Linked DNA regions of Homo sapiens: region 2 is linked to region 1. The links come from fine-mapping of genetic effects on gene expression. Tissue or cell type: whole blood. Region 1 holds a variant in brackets; the other region holds the start of a gene. All regions are shown on one strand. Distances are between the middles of the regions.

Region 1 (8,104 bases):
CTCCTGCCTCAGCCTCCGGAGTAGCTGGGATTACAGGCATGTGCCACCACGCCCAGCTAATTTTGTATTTTTAGTAGAGATGGGGTTTCTCCATGTTGGCCAGGCTGGTCTTGAACTCCTGACCACGAGGAGTGCCTGATCCACCCTAAGTGCTGGGATTACAGGCATGAGCCACTGTGCCCGGCCCAACACTTCCAAGTTTAGATAGACCGAGCTAGCATTTGCTGTCAGTGATTGGAATGAATAGTCAGAGTGAAAAAGTAAGCCAGCAACTCGTTTTGGAATGTGGGAATGTGAAAATGTAAAATTAAAGCGCTTACTGTTGTCTGGAGAAATGGAGGTAGCCCAGAAGAGCCTGGGTGTTGTGGTATTACTGAGCAAGAAAAGGATGGCCCATGACTGATTCTGAGACAGGAAACATAGATAAGTTATCAAAAATGAAATGCCAGCAGGAGAGCAAGGATGTAGATTGTAAAAAAAAGATGGCATTTCAATATGCCAAACCACAGATATGATCTAAGGCTAGATTTGCATGTAATAATGAAAGTGGCCACCGTGTGTAATGTGAGTCAGGCCCTTCTAAGCACTTTACTTGCGAAGTCCAAGCTATTACTACGTTCTTCTGAGGCAGAGCCCATTAAAGCTCCCACTTAGCCAGATATGTTCCTGAGTTGCCACTTCATGGTTAAGTGCTGCCCCAAGTACCCCAGGTGCCTGGCCACTGTCCTGGCAGTGGCCTTTGCCCCTTCTGGATACCCACCAGCCTCTCATGATTCACAAGGGGCCAGCAGGGCTTCTTCAGTTCCAGCTCTAGCCCTGAGGCTGGCATGTACTCTGATTGTTCAGTGCCTTGGTTTCTTCCTGCGGCTATAACAAAATACCTTAGTGTAATTTATAAAGAAAATGAACGTATTGTTCAGAGTTCTGGAGGCTGGGTCGTTTAAGATCAAGGTGCCAGCAGATCCCGTATTTGGTGAGGACTGTTCTCACCTTCCACGATGGCGCCTTCTTGCTATGTCCTCACGTGGTGGAAGGAACAAGGCAGTTCTCTTCAACCTCTTTTATAAGGGCACTCATCCCATTTATGAGGGTGGTGCTCTCATGACTTTATCACTCCCCCAAAGGCCCCACCTCTTAATACTGTCAAATTGGATATCAGGCTCCAGTAATACAAATTTTGGGGGGATACTGCCATTCAGATCATAGCACTACCCATGTCATGCTGGTGGTTACATATTTTTCAAAGATGCCTGGGTACTCTTTTTAATCAGAAACTGTGGTACAGAGCAAGAATTGAACCTGGGCAGGTGGGCTCCAGAGTTTGTACTGTCCCTTTGCCCTCAGGTTCAGAAACCCACATGAGAACTGTGCATTTCCTCTGGGGAGAGGGAGTTGGAACAAGAGATGCAGCTGAAGCTTTAGCAGAATTGGATGTTTACGGCCAGGTATAATCATCTGTAATCCCAGCACTTTGGGAGGCCGAGGCTGGAGGATTGCTTGAGCCCAGAAGTTCAAAACCAGCCTGGGCAACATAGCACCTGTCTCTACAAAAAAAAAAAAAAAAAAAAAAAATTTTTTTTTTGAGACAAGAGTCTTGCTCTGTCACCCAGGCTGGAGTGCAGTGACACAGTCTCGGCTCACTGCAACCTCCGCCTCCCGGATTCAAGCAATTGTCCTACCTCAGCCTCCCAAGTAGCTGGGATTATAGGCACCTGCCACAATGCCCAGCTAATTTTTTGTATTTTTAGTAGAGACAGGGTTTCGCTATGTTCAGGCCAGGCTGGTCTCGAACTCCTGACCTCAGGTAATCCACCTGCCTTGGCCTCCCAAAGTGCTGGGATTATAGGCTTGAGCCACCAAACCCAGCCAAAAAAATTTTTTAAAGAATTAAAAATAAAAAATAGCCAGGTGTGGTGGCACATGCAGCTACTCAGGAGGCTGAGGCAGGAGGATCTCTTGATCCTGGGAGGTGGAGGTTGCAGTGAGCTGTGATCACGCCACTGCACTGCAGCCTGGGTGACAGATTGAGACCCTGTCTTGAAAAAAAGAAAAGAATTGGATTTTTTTTCCTCACAAAAAAAATTTATAGCAAATGTTTAATATCAGCAGTGAGTACTGCTTTATGATAATTTTTTTAGAAACCTAAAGGCTTTGTGATATTCTTAACCATGCTTTTCCTGGTAGATCAGATTCTTTCCTCTCCATTTCTGCTGTACTGACTTCCCCAATGTGACTCATTTTTCAGAGGCACTCTGCTGTGTTGCTTTCTCTGAACTCAGGAAGTTTCGCATGTTGATGTTTAAACCCTCTGGGAAGTGGCCTGATGCAGCCTCAGCCTTGATTTCCACTGGCCTCCTCCAGTCAGGGCAGGCTTGTCACTGGCCTCCACTTCCAGCCCTTTCTTACCTTCAAGCATTTCTTCTGTGTTCCTGTGACTCCTCTGCTAGCGATTCCTTCCCTCTTTCTTTTCCAGCACTCCAGAATCCATGGTCCCTGATCCAAAACCTTTTCTGAAAAAGATTAGTTCATGTACCTTATATGTTGTACTGTGTCCCAGTTGGAGACCTGGGTGGTACCCCACAACCAGATCCATCAGTGATTCTGCAGGGAAATTTGTAAATTCTCACACTAAATGGGGTAAAATAGATTAAACCTCATATAAATTTCAGTCAGATTTTGCTATAAAGTAAAGAAAAAAATTTGGATTTTTAGACTTTTCTGGATTTCAAAATTGTGGGCCTGATTTTCACTTTTTAGGAAACTTACTTTATCCATGAAGCCTTCATTAGCAGTTTCTTCCACACCGACAGCTAAGTGTAGGAGACACTAAGATAGAAAAGTGAGCAAATATCTTTGCGCTCAGTGTTTTACCTTTCTTTAATCATTTGTGGCTTGAAGCCCTTAGCTGATGTTTATTATATGTTAGTGGAATTGAATTGAGTAGCCCAAGACTTGGCTACTGGTATTGAATGGACAGATCAGGGAATAGTGGCTTAGTGCCCAGGGACACTTGGAAAGTCTGCTGGAGCTGAGGTGGAGAAGCTTTCATCGCTGTTTGACTTGATTCTGGTTATTTTTATATTTGCCCGAGGTGCACTGGACCACATGGATTTTTGCTTCTGACTAGAATGCTTCTTTTCAGTGGAATATAATTTTTCTAGGGAGGTCCAGTGCTTACAGCATGGGCTGCTCTGGGGGGGACTTGTTCCTCTGTGTTTAATTGTAGTGTCTTCTTCAGCTGCAGGAAA[C/T]GCATTTTGTCAGGCAGCCAAGCTCCACATGCAGCTTCAGAGCAAACATGACTCTGCTACCAGCTTTGTGGATGCTGGAAATGCTTACAAAAAGGCAGATCCCCAAGGTAAGACAGCCAGGCATGTAGCATGCTATCTCTGTGTGTAACTAACCAGTCAGTACTTCCCTCAACGTTAAGGTCAGTGTTGGTGTGCTTTCAAGTCCTGGTAAAAAGGAATTTTTGTATTTTGGAATAATAGAGAATTTTGATAACCTTAGGGATTTTTCTTTTTTAATCATTTGGGGGCTTTTATGAGGAGAAATTATGTTAAATTTATACTGGCTGTTTACTTTATAGCATCATTTAATTAAACTCTTATTTATATTGCATTTTAGAGAATTTTTTGGAAATTACCTTTAATTTTATCTAAGACTTCTTATATCTTAATTTTGTGAAAATGTATATTGTTCATAAAAGGAAACTCTTATGTTCCCTTACTCCTAAATACCTAAGGAGTTTTCAGATCCAGTTAATGGGAGATTGTAATATTCAATCGTTAAAAAGTCTGATTCATACAGTATTCATTTGGTTTTTTAAAAAGTTTTTCAAAGTATTTGTTTTGAGGAAAGAATGCAATTGGATATTTAATGTGGTAAAATTTTGCAAAGATTATTTCTTTTTAGTTAGAAGAGTGTAATTAAAAGTATTAATTTCTTACCTTCCACACGCGTGCACAGCGGAAATTTTGTGTTTTTCCTTTTTCTTTTAGCAGTCCATTTTGTTTAACACACAGATCCCAAATTTTGAGAATAAATATGTCATAAAGAAATAGGGTATCTTCAATACCTTTGGTATAAGGGTTAATCACAGTTTATTTCCCAAAGTGACAAACTGGACACAGGTTAAATAAGCTGTTAGAGTGGTAACATTGTAATGCATCAGTACTTTAGAATATGGTGCAGGCATTAAAATCCCTGGTTTCAGAGAATCTTCAGTGACCTGGTAAATGTTTACATGTCAATTAAAGAAGCACATGAGACTGAATGTTGTATAATCTCATTTTCAGAAAAAAGTTTGTGCATATAGAAATGTGTCTAATAAACGCAAAAGGAAAGTACATCTGAGTACTAACAACGGATTTGAGCGGGATTATTGATAGATTATTTTTCTCTTTATATTCTGTATTTTAAAAGGTGTAACAGGGATCCACATTTTTTATGTAGTTTAGAGGGAAATTGTTTTAATTTTTGTTCATCTGCTTACCTTTCTAATTTTGTAGTCAGGCCTTTCTACTTTGCTGCCTCTTTAAACCAAACGTAATAAACTTGGAGCTGTCACTGTATGCCAGCATCATAAACACCATCATTTTATGATAGGGAAAATTTTTTGGCTCACTTGTTTAGAAAATTAGTAAAATTTATTAGCATTATTATTTATTAGATTTGTTTCTTCATTTTGTTAGTATGCTACAATTTAGCATCTTTGAACATTATACAGAATGTTGACTTTGCTTAAGGGTTGTTTGAATAGGCATTTCAAAGTGCTTTTGCTTTTGGCTGCATGGAGAGTAGAATCTATTGAGGTGATTGTTCTTGTGATGTGGTGCCATGTTCCAAAATTAATATATATGCATGGTATTAATGAGGAATATGTTTGCATTCATATTTTAGCAGATACAATTTATCAGTGTTGGTGACAACCTCTATGGTTTTATTTTCTTTATAATACAGTCTTTTGCCTGGATGGAGTCCTCACTTTAAGGTTAAGAGTAACTAAGCCAATGTTACTCCAGCTACAGTTCCCTAAATTATACTATAGCTGCTGGGAACAAAGCCATGCTGATGAATCTGGACTTGTGCATGATTTTTGTTTGCTTCTCATTAACCTGCCCACCCTCCACTCCAAAATTATACCTCATTAACGTTCTGATAACAGCCAGGAAGACAGCCTCACCTGAACCCTCTTTGACTGAATGGATTTTTCATTGTTTTTCTTAAATGCCTACGCTTCAGAGGCTATCAACTGCTTAAATGCAGCCATCGACATTTACACAGACATGGTAAGACATTGCATTGCTTGAGTGGCTGTGGGGTGGAGTCTTGAGATGGCTTAGAGTTCTATCTTTCTTTTTTATGTTCCCAAACTGGCATTCAGATAGGTAAAATCGGTGTGTGACTGTTTCTTGTTTTTTCCCCTAGGGAAGGTTTACAATTGCAGCCAAGCACCACATTACTATTGCAGAGATCTATGAGACTGAACTTGTAGACATTGAGAAGGTAAGCAGTGGGCACACTTCCTCAGATGTGAAGCAGGCAGATAAGCTGACTCAAAGAACTCTCCTCTCCTCAGTCTGAGAGTGATCGTAGGTGTAGAGTGGTCATAGATGGCCTTGCCTGGAGACTTTCTGGCAAAGTCTACTAGCTGGCTAAGTAGATGGGCTGTTTTCCTGGAGTGGACATCTAAGACATGAGAGCTGATTAAGATTTACAGAGATCACCTGTTGTTTCCACTCTCTCTGATTCATGTCAGAACATTAGCATTGCCAAAAGAACCTTCAGCTGTATTGCTTAGTACTCTAAGGCCCAGTGAAGAAAGTGTAAGAGGTCACCTCTGTACACTCAGTCAGCATCACAGCTTTAAGTATCTGTGTGCCAGTGACTCAGAAATCTGACTGCAGCCTAGACCTCTCTCCAAATGCTAGATTACTGTATCCACCTGCCTGCTGACCTCTCCACTTTGTCCAGCAGTCATCTCTAACCCAACATGTCTGGGACTGGATTCTCAGATGTCCCCAACCCAGTGTTCCCCGCTAAACTACAGGCTTCCTTGCCTTTTCTCTTTCTCTACAACCTGTGAGCAATTTTTGTGAGCGGTGTCCTTCCTGCTCCCAAGTCTTGGCACAACTCACTACCTTGTCTCTCAGCTCACACTTGATCGCTGCAGGATCCTTCAAACCGGTCTCCCTGCTTTTGCTCTCCCTACCTTGCCAACCCCACATCCCCATGCCACAGAGTAGCCAGAGTGAGCCTTCTAAGCATTGCATCATACTCTGTTTCTCTACTGCTGACAGTCATTAGACCCCTTTCACTAAGAGGAACAGCTGGAGCTGTGCAGAGCCTTCATGGGTCCACTGAATTGCTTCCTCCCAGCCCCACACTCCCCATGCATCTGTGTGGCCTGGCCTCTCCTCTTTTCTGTTATTCTCCTCCTCTTGCATACCCTGCATGGCCATCCTGGCCTCCTTGCTGTTCCGCACACATGCCAGATGAGCGCTCCTGCCTCAGGACCTTTGTATCCACGATTTCCTCTGTCTGCAAAGCTCTTCCCCAGATGTCCACGTGGCTGACTCCTCACATCTTTCAAGTCCACATGGCTAACTTCCCCGTGCCCTTCCATTTTTGCTCATTTATTACCTATTTCCATGATTAACTATTATGACCCCCTAGTTAATTTAGCCCCCCAGGAAGACATAGTAGATCCCCACACACCTCACTTAACTTCTTGTATTGCTGAGCAGATGTCTCCTTACAATATGCCCTCTCATATGCTTGCTCATCATTCTCATTTTGGTTGTCTCTCTCCCTCCGCCAGATTGGGCACACGTGTCAGCAGAGAGCTTTGTCTCTGCTTTGCTGATGTGTCCCAAGAGCCCAGAACTCTGGGACCTAGTGGGGTCTAAATATTTGCTAAATAAACAAATGCTACCCCTACCTCCACCATACCAAATGGAGTCTTCCTGGTCTGGGGAAGGATCTGCTAGGCGTTACTGAAATTGGACTGGCATTGTTAACGTTCACTCTTTTGACTGTGTGACCTCCACCTGTTGGTTATTCAGCACAAAATTTGCTCATATTTGTTACATAAAATTTATTATTTGACCTTTTTTTTTTATAATTGCCATACTTTTCTGAGGATACTCCCTGATCTTGATCAAGTCAGGGCCACCCTGTGCATTGACGTGTGTGTGAGCCTTCTCTTTGGAAGGTTATCTGTGGATCCTGGAGGCAGGTGATGGAGCTGGATCTGAACCTCCTTTGTTCCCTGGTGTGGAATTGATGATGGAATGGGAGGGAGATGGATCTGGTGTGGCTGGGGTATTTATTTGGTCAGGGTGTCTGGGATGGCCACAGTATCTTTATTTAGGTTTGAGTGAGTCTTGCGGGGATGAGCACTGTGCGCAGAGCATCTTTGCCAGCAGAGGCTCCTGTTCCAGCTTCCTCTTTCACAGTGGTCAGAAGGGCACTCTGGGGCAGGAGCCTGCAGTGCTGTGTCATTTCTGCTGCCCAGGCATGGTCTCCAACACATGGGTCTCCATAAACTTGAGAGCAGATAAAATGAAATGTGACATACTCTTTTTTTCTCTTGAAAAAAAAAAGGCCAGGTACAGTGGCTGATGCCTATAATCCTACCACTTTGGGAGGCCAAGGCAGGAGGATCACTTGAGCCCAGGAGTTCAAGACCAGCCTGGGCAACATGAGAAATCCCCATCTCTACTAAAAATATAAAAAAAAAAACTATCCAGGAATGGTGGCGTGTGCCTCATTCTGTTCCACAGGCTGGACAGGTTGGAGTGGCATGAACACAGCTCACTGTAGCCTCAGCCTCCTGGGCTCAAGCGATCCTCCCACCTCAGCCTTCCAAGTAGCTGAGACTACAGGCATGTGCCACCATGCCCGGCTAATTTTTTAATTTTTCATACAAATGAGGTCTTTTCATGTTGCCCAGGCTGGTCTCAAACTCCTGGACTCAAGCAGTCCTCCCATCTTGGCCTCCCAAATGCTGAGATTACAGTCATGGACCATCATGCCTGACCTTCACGGAATACTGAATTTTAAAATGCAGCTATAAAAGAACAGGTGTACTATGGTTCTCTTT
Region 2 (8,104 bases), 25 kb before region 1:
ACAACCTCATCCACACAGATGGAAGATTTATTTTCATTAATGCATTCCTTTAACGATTTTGGGTGAAGAGCCTCCTGAAATGGACTTCTTCCTTCCCTGCCTTCTGAAGCAGAACACTCTGCTTTAGATGGTTTGACCTTGTCCGATGACTCTGAGCCACGCTTAGCATTTCAGGCAGAACGAAGGCTGAGATGTCATCAGAGAAGGCCACTGCAGACCTGGGCAGGGACCGTTGGGCCATGCCATGCAGGGCCATGTGAGCTGAAGGCTGTCCCCCAACGCCAGCGTAGGGGCTCCAGCTTCCCAACTTTGTCAATGCAACCAGAGTGGACCAGGGTGAGCACGGACTCCCTCTAACCTAGCTGTCGTGGTGTGAAAACATCTGCAAATCCTCAGAGGCCCTCCCATCAGGAGATGTCGTCTCATTTCCCTCCCCTTTAATGTGGGTGAGCCTTCTTGCTTTGCTTCAGTGAAGCAGCAGTGATGTCCCATAATTTTCCATACTGGATCTTTGCCTGGTGCTTTCTCCCCTTCTGTGAACACACACAGATGGCTACACCCTTTCCCCATATCGATTCTGTTCTTTTCTGACTCTGGCTTTCTTAGTATTGGGGTTCTCAAGTAGCTTCAGCCCTGTCTTGATGGATCATCTTTCGGGGTATGTGCTGATTCAGTCTGAGTGTCCAGGTGTCCACCTCCATCTTCTCACAGGGAAAAGCCAGCAGTACTGTTGGCTCTGCCTTGTTCAGGCTACGCTCCTTTCCTGCTCTGCCTTCTCAGAAACTCCCTGAAGCCTTTTTCTTCTTTTCTTACAAGTGTCCAGAACTTCTGAAAAGCAAAGCACATAGAGGCTAGTGCCATCCACTAGGACTTGTGGAATGATAAAATTGTTCTCTGTCTGTGCAGTCCATATAGTAGTGTAGGGGGGCATCTCAGGCTCCTGGTGGAGTCTGAAAATTAAACTTACATAAGACAAGTTAATAGCAGGAAAGCACACAGGTGTATTTGATACAAGTTTTACATGGCATGGGAGGCCTCATAAGGAAATGAAAACCCAAAGAGGCAGTTAGAGTGTGTTACTTATTTACTGAATTGGACAAAGAATAGTAAACTGAAAATGTGATGAGGCAGAGGGGCTTGGGCTAGGGTAGTTAATTGGATAGAAAAGTGACTAAGAAGATAAGGGTTAGTTTAATAGGGTTTGTACAGAATTCTCTTAGCCTCAACTTCCTGTCTTTGATGATAAGAATGTTGCTTTAGTTCTAGTATAAGAGGGACATCTTTCATATGGGAATTTCATCTCTTGCCTTTAAATAAACAAGAGGTTGGGGCCAGGCGCGGTGGCTCACGCCTGTAATCCCAGCACTTTGGGAGGCCGAGGCTGGTGGATCACGAGGTCAGGAGATCGAGACCATGCTGGCTAACACAGTGAAACCCCGTCTCTACTAAAAATCCAAAAAATTAGCCGGGTGTGGTGGTGGGTGCCTGTAGTCCCAGCTACTTGGGAGGCTGAGGCAGGAGAATGGCGTGAACCTGGGAGGCGGAACTTGCAGTGAGCCACTGCACTCTGGCCTGGGCAACAGAGTGAAACTCTGTCTCAAAAAAAAAAAAAAAAGAAAGAAAGAAACAAGAGGTCAAAGTGTCCAGTGTGTATTCTGTATGCAAAAAAGAAAAGAAAAAGTCAAAATAATCTTCTTGCACCTGTCGTTTTTTGGGTGTCTAACTTTTTTTTTTTTTTTTGAGCAGAGTCTCACTCACTCTGTCGCCCAGGCTGGAGTGTAATGGTGCAATCTCGGCTCACTGCAACCTCTGTTCCACCTCTCAGGTTCAAGTGATTCTCCTGCCTCAGCCTCCTGAGTAGCTGGGATTACAGGCATGCACCACGACACCTAACTAATTTTTGTATTTTTTGTAAATTTTGTATTTTTGGTAGAGATGGGGTTTTACTGTGTTGGCCAGGTTGGTCTTGAACTACTCACCTCAAGTGATCCGCTTGCCTTGGCCTCCCAAAGTGCTGGGATTACAGGCGTGAGCCACCGCCCTCAAGTATCTAACTTAGTCAATCCACCAGGTGTCTAACTTAGTCAATCCACCAGGATGCTATATTTATAACTCTTTCAGTAGCCACTGGCTATGTGTGGCTATTGAGCACTTGAAATACGGCTAGTACAGCCAAGAAATGGAACTTTACATTTTATTTAATATTATTTAACTTGAATGTAAATAGCCACCAGTGGTGAGTGGCTCCATCCTGGGCAGCGCAGGTGTGGGCAGTGGGTCCTTTGGCTCTTCTCCAAGATGACTTCTATTCTTCTCCTGATCCACACCAGGGGTGCTTCTCCTTTCCTTTTCCTTCTTGTTTCAAGGATTCCTCAGCTGTCTCTCTAGTCAGGCCTTATTCTGTGAGGTTCATCTCTCTGCCCTGCCTCCTTTCCTCCCCCAGCCTTTGGGAGAATAAAACACTAGCTCTACCCAGTAATTAAGGTTTGAAGGTTTTCTCCCACTTTGGTGTGGACTGGCAGAACGGTGGGAGTGCCCACAAATTTCCTGTGACAAAGAAGAGAATGAAGGAAATTACTAGAAACCACCAAAAATGTCTCTCTTAATTGCAAGTGCTAGCTTCGGGGAGGCAGTCTGTTCCAGCTCCTTTTCAACTGACTACAGATATGAGAATCTAGAACTGTGTGCTTTAGGATAGGGATGGAGAGTTCTTTTCAAAATGTGCATTTTCTAGACCCCAGCTGCAAGAGACCTTGATACCAAAACCCAGTGGCCTAGGAATCAGTATTTCTTAAATATCCATTAGAGCTTCTGCATCGAACCACGTTAGGGAACAACTGATTTAATCAACACACTGATTTACTTAGGAGCTTTTGACTTAGCCTCACTCCATTAAGCCCCCATAGACTGCTCTGCTTTCCAAATGCTTATGTTCACTTTTTACAGTTTTTCTCTGGTCTCCCCTGCATTTACGGTCACCTCCAATTTCCCGCCTCCTTCTCTCTCCAAAAACACACAGCTCAGCTTTTCAAAGTTAGAATAATGCATGTAGTAATCGTAAATAAACTGCACGAAGAGCTGAGATTTCTTTCTATCTCTACGGAGTCCTGAAATGTATGAACTCTGTGACATGTGCTTTAGTCAACTTTCTTTCTAGGAGTTTGGCCCCTCTTGCCTTGCCCTCTACAGACAGTCTTCATTTTCTAAAATTTTGCATGCCAGTGCCCAGAGTGTATTTATTAACAGTTTGAAACTGTCATAAATCTCACTTGGCAGTGATTTTCTTATTAGTTTCAGCATCTCTGCCTTAGCACTGCCAAGCTTGAATGGTCTAGACATTGTCTTCAAAAATAACTCCCTCTGGGACAGGCCTGAAAGTCTCTGGCACAGGATCCCATCTATCTATGGATACTTCTCCTAGGAGATTAGAAGTCTTCCTGGCAGGCAAACATTTTGTCCCTGGAGATCCATCCACTATGGCCAGTATTATGTAAAGGATAAGAGTTCAATGGTTCACATCCATTGAATATAATTCAGTCAACAAAAGAGTGGATTATGCATATATTGCATATATGCAACTCATTTATAACCAAGGAAGAGAGGACCAACAGAAAGTTACAGTTTGGGGAGATTTAAAAATAACTGAACTTATATTGGGGACGTCTTGCTCTTGGAGATAAAAATGGCTCTTATTGCCAGCTGTTGCTCGTTTTTTGGTGGGCGGTATCAAGCATGTGATGCTTTGGTGGCTACACCAGATTCTCTTTTGCAGAACTTGCATGAAGGGTGTGGGTTCCATCCAATCTGTTATCCCCTGTTCCTTCATCCATCCCATTGCCATGCGAGTCTTACTGAGGAGGTGATCTTTACTAGAGGCCACGGATCATTTTTCCATTTCTGCATACATACAAAATTAAAGTTCACCTTGGCCCAGGACCCCTTTGGGGGGGTCACGCCCCCTGCGCCGACGTCCTGGGAGCTAGCGGTGCGCAAGCTCGGCTCACACACACCCCGCCCCGGGGCCTCCTGGGAACTGTAGTAGGCGGCTCGCGAATCCCCGCCGCCATGACAGGACCCGGACTACAGCTCCCGAAAGGCCTCGCGCGTCGCGCCTGCGCCTGCGTCCCTGCGGCCGCCAGAGGGAGGGTTAAGGCGCCTGGGCGCACAGCGAGCCGGCTGAGGGGGCTGTGGCGGCCGCGGCGGGCGACATGGACAACGCGGGGAAGGAGCGTGAGGCAGTACAGCTGATGGCGGAGGCCGAGAAGCGAGTCAAGGCCTCCCACTCCTTCCTCCGAGGGCTGTTTGGGTGAGCGCCAGACCGTGCGTGCCCTGGGGGGGGGGGGTCTCCGTACTTGGCCCCCTTCCTTTCAGGCTGACCCCCCGAGTCCCCCACGCAACCTCTGGGGCCCTCAGACCACGTCTAGGGGCCCTCAGCCTGCAGGCGCCCTCCAGAAATCCTGTAGGGTCCCCCAGCGCCCCCTGGAGCCCCCAGGACGCCCAGGGGCCCTCAGTCCGCACGCGCCCTCCAGAGACCCCACAGGCCCCCCCAGGGTCCCTGGAAACCCCGCATCCTCCCAGGGGCTCTCAGCCCCCACGCGCACTTTAGAGACCCCCTAGGGCCGGCAGAACTCCCCAGGGTTCCTCAGCCCCCACACGCTCTCCGGATCCCCTAACACGCCCCCTTAGAATCCCCAGAGTCTCACAGGGACCCTCAGCCCCCACGCGCCTTTCAGAGAACCCCTAGGACCCCCAGAGCTCCCCAAGCGCCCCACGAAGCCCCTAGAACACTCTGGGGGGGGGGCTGTCAGCCTCACGCGCCCTCTGGAGACCCCAGATCGCCCCCCTCGCCCTGGCCCGGGTTGGTGCGGGGGTCCCACGACCTAGAAGGTCAGCGGCTCCCTGAGGCCCGCGGGCGCGGTAGCTCGGGGCGCGCGTGGGGCCCCCTTCTCAGTGCGTAGCGAGTCGTATTGGTGCATTTCGCCACGCTGAAGCCCGTATCGCTCCTGAGACCGGTCCGGGTGAGGCGCGCCGGGGTGGAGCCGGAGGGGTGGGTGCGGGGGCCGCCCCCGGCGCCTGGAACGCGCACCTGGGGGCGTCCCGCCTGCAGGTGGGCCCCGCCGGGGAGGGGGCGGTCCGGCGAGGGATCCAGAGCTGGTGTGCTTGTTGGCCTCTCTCCAGGGGCCTTGCGCCGAGTACACCTTTAGTAAATACTTGACTAATGAACGAATATATTTTCTCAGCATAGTATTTTTCCTTCTCCGGAGATTGATTGATAGCCAGAGCCTCCTGTTTGATTAACGGTAACGCTGCTGCTGTTTAAGTCAGGCGTCCTTTGGGAATCCCTTTAATTTCCTGTAATTCTTCCGTGCTCTCCTAAGGAGGATTTTAAATTCCAACCTCTCAAAAAGCAGAGCCCGCACTGACAGCCCGGAAGAATTCTGGGCTGTTGAATATGTGAATGATTCAGCTGTTTAGGATGAGAAAGGCAGAAATTTTGTGTGTGCCTGTTTCGTTGTTTTCTTTTGAAAGTGAAAGATCCTTTGCTGTTACCAAGAGCAGATACTTAACCCATTGCATGACTAGACACGATTTTATTTCTGTACACATTCAGTTCAGACTCTATTTCAGAAGACAGACATAATGGGCTCTTAGCTTGTTTTGCCAACTTCATTCTTTTGGCTATAAATTATAATACTTTACCGCTATTGATACGTCTTTAGGAAATGCTTAAGGACAAGTTGCATGCAGTACGCATAACTGCAGAAATGCATAAAGGCTGCAAAAATGCAAGAAGATAAGGGTCCCTGTCCTCAGGAACCTCTCAGAGGACGTTTATCACAGCTGGTTTCTAAATTTCTCATGTGATGTGTAGGAGATATAGCTATGAATTATGTTTTGTTTTGCATTTAAAAGTTATGACAGTACCATCAAGTGCTAGCGCCACACTAACTCCTTTTAAATGTTTTGATTCACAAAACATTTAAAATTCACTCTAATAAAATTTAATGTCATAGTACCTCATGCCAGGAGGTTATTTTAATGTTACAACATTATTTCAAGTCAGGAAGTGCTTCCCTGTGGGAGAGTCTGTAACTGGCAGAGGAAAAAGCTTGACAGCACTTGGTGCTTGTCTCAGGAGAACACTCCTTTTGGGAAAGAGGTTTTCGATGTTTTTAGGAAACTAGGCCAAATCTTGAGCTTATAATCCTTAAAGGATTTTGAAAAGCCTTTGTTTTTAAAGAAACATCTCCCTTTTAAATGTTGCTACCTATGTTATTGACAGGACATATAAGAAGACGAATCTTCACCATTCACACTCAGTTACACAAAAGTTAATGCATCTTAGTTCTTACCTGGGTACAACAGGTTGGTTTATTATCTAGCTTTGGGACCTAGGGCAAGTTACTTAGCCTCTCTGTGCTTCAGTTTCCAGTGTATAAAACGGAGACAATAATAGTATATCTCAAAATTTATGGGAGTTCAGTGAGGTTATGTTTATAAAACATTTGGAACCATGGATGTTGGAGACAGTGACCATGAGATATTAATTAGCATATTCATCAAAATTATCAGCTCCAGTTATTTATCAAAGAAGCAGTAGGCCAAACAGATAACTTTTCCAGAATTTCAGAGCCGTAGACTGCATCATTGATTTTTTTTTTTTGAGACGGAGTCTCACACTGTCACCCGGGCTGGATTGCAGTGGCGGGATGTCAACTAACTGCAACCTCCGCCTCCCAGGTTCAAGCGATTCTCCTGCCTCAGTCTCCTGAGTAGCTGGGATTACAGCCACCCGCCACCACGCCCGGCTAATTTTTTTTTTTTTTTTGTATTTTTAGTAGAGACGGGGTTTCACTGTGTTGGCCAGGCTGGTCTCGAATGCCTGACCTCGTGATCCACCTGCCTTGGCCTCCCAAAGTGCTGGGATTACAGACGTGAGCCAGCACGCCCAGCCTCATTGATCTTTTAATGAAATAAAATATCTGAAAGAGCTTTAACCATTAATGTACCATGCAAGTGTGATTTATACTTTGAAGACTGTTATTTCCAGTAATACTTGCTCCAGGAAAGCTTGCAGGAAGAAGAGTACTTAGAATTTTAGGAGTTTAGTAATATTGTATAATTACTGAAGCCAGAAAACAGACGTAGTGTTCCTGTGTCAGTAGGACAATTAAGATTCTGTATCAATTTTAGATGTTTAGAATCCTACCTTATAGATGGCATGTATCATCACCTTTCTAGACTGGAATACATGTTATTCCACCCTGCCCCTGCCTTCTTAGCTATAGAATGTCACCATTTTCATTCCTAAAGGTCTGCATGTAATCCTTTATTTAAAACGCAGAGTAATCCATCTCTATGTCAGACTCCAGAATTAATGTAATACAAAATTAATAAAACACACATACTGACTTGAATATCATCAGAGCTCATATATTTAAGAGCTGACTAGCTGGTGCTTTAAAGAGGATAAGCCATCTGTTTTCAGGTTGTGGCAGTCATTAAAAGCTGCTTGGCATATTGCAGATATTTCACATCACAGACATTCTGAATGCTCTATCTGCAGATTAAAGCCTGTCATGAGTTCTCTAGTGTTTACCACTCACAGTGGTTTTGTGGCAATACTGTATTCTTAGTAGTATTCTATAGCTTTTGTTTCTTGCTTTCAGTAAAATTAGATGAAAATATGCATATGTATTTATGAGAACATGTCAGTCAAATATTTCTTCTCTGTGTAAGGCACAAATCCTCTGCCTTATCTGCTTGATAGGTAAGGTATCAATATTCCTTTCCCATCCCCACCTTCCTCCCCAGGAAAAGAGCTGACAAGGGATGCAAACATTGCAGGAAACCACTGTTGTGGTGGTTTGTGTTTCTGCTTAATTGCCCGTTAAGCAGTAATGTGCTTTTGTAGTTGTGGAATTAAAACTTTTTCTCAAGTTTGTAGTATAGTACGTTTAGTAAAACTACTTCCAAAGGAGTTGTCTTGTCCTTTAGTTTGTTGCCAGGGATGAGCTATGGAATTTTGTAGTTAATTTCAAATTCCAGTTTATAATGTTAATGAACTACTGGTATGATTTTAAATCGGCCTGAGTCTGACATT

The links. PIP is the estimated chance that this variant, and not a neighbour inherited with it, causes the effect.
Region 2: it holds the start of NAPB, and the variant in region 1 is fine-mapped to the expression of NAPB in whole blood (INTERVAL, PIP 0.97).

What each region holds. Positions count from the first base shown.
Region 1 is chr20:23,392,323-23,400,426 of GRCh38, reverse strand. NAPB (NSF attachment protein beta) reads left to right here. Exons shown (of 11, transcript NM_022080.3): 3 at 3,239-3,355; 4 at 5,242-5,288; 5 at 5,428-5,505. Among named protein-coding and RNA genes, the nearest start is that of NAPB, 25 kb to the left of the region's middle. The variant C/T (reference allele first, on the strand shown) is at 3,249.
Region 2 is chr20:23,417,507-23,425,610 of GRCh38, reverse strand. NAPB (NSF attachment protein beta) reads left to right here and starts at 4,123. Exons shown (of 11, transcript NM_022080.3): 1 at 4,123-4,306. The coding sequence starts at 4,209. RefSeq lists an enhancer at 3,745-3,934 and silencers at 4,185-4,274, 4,905-5,134.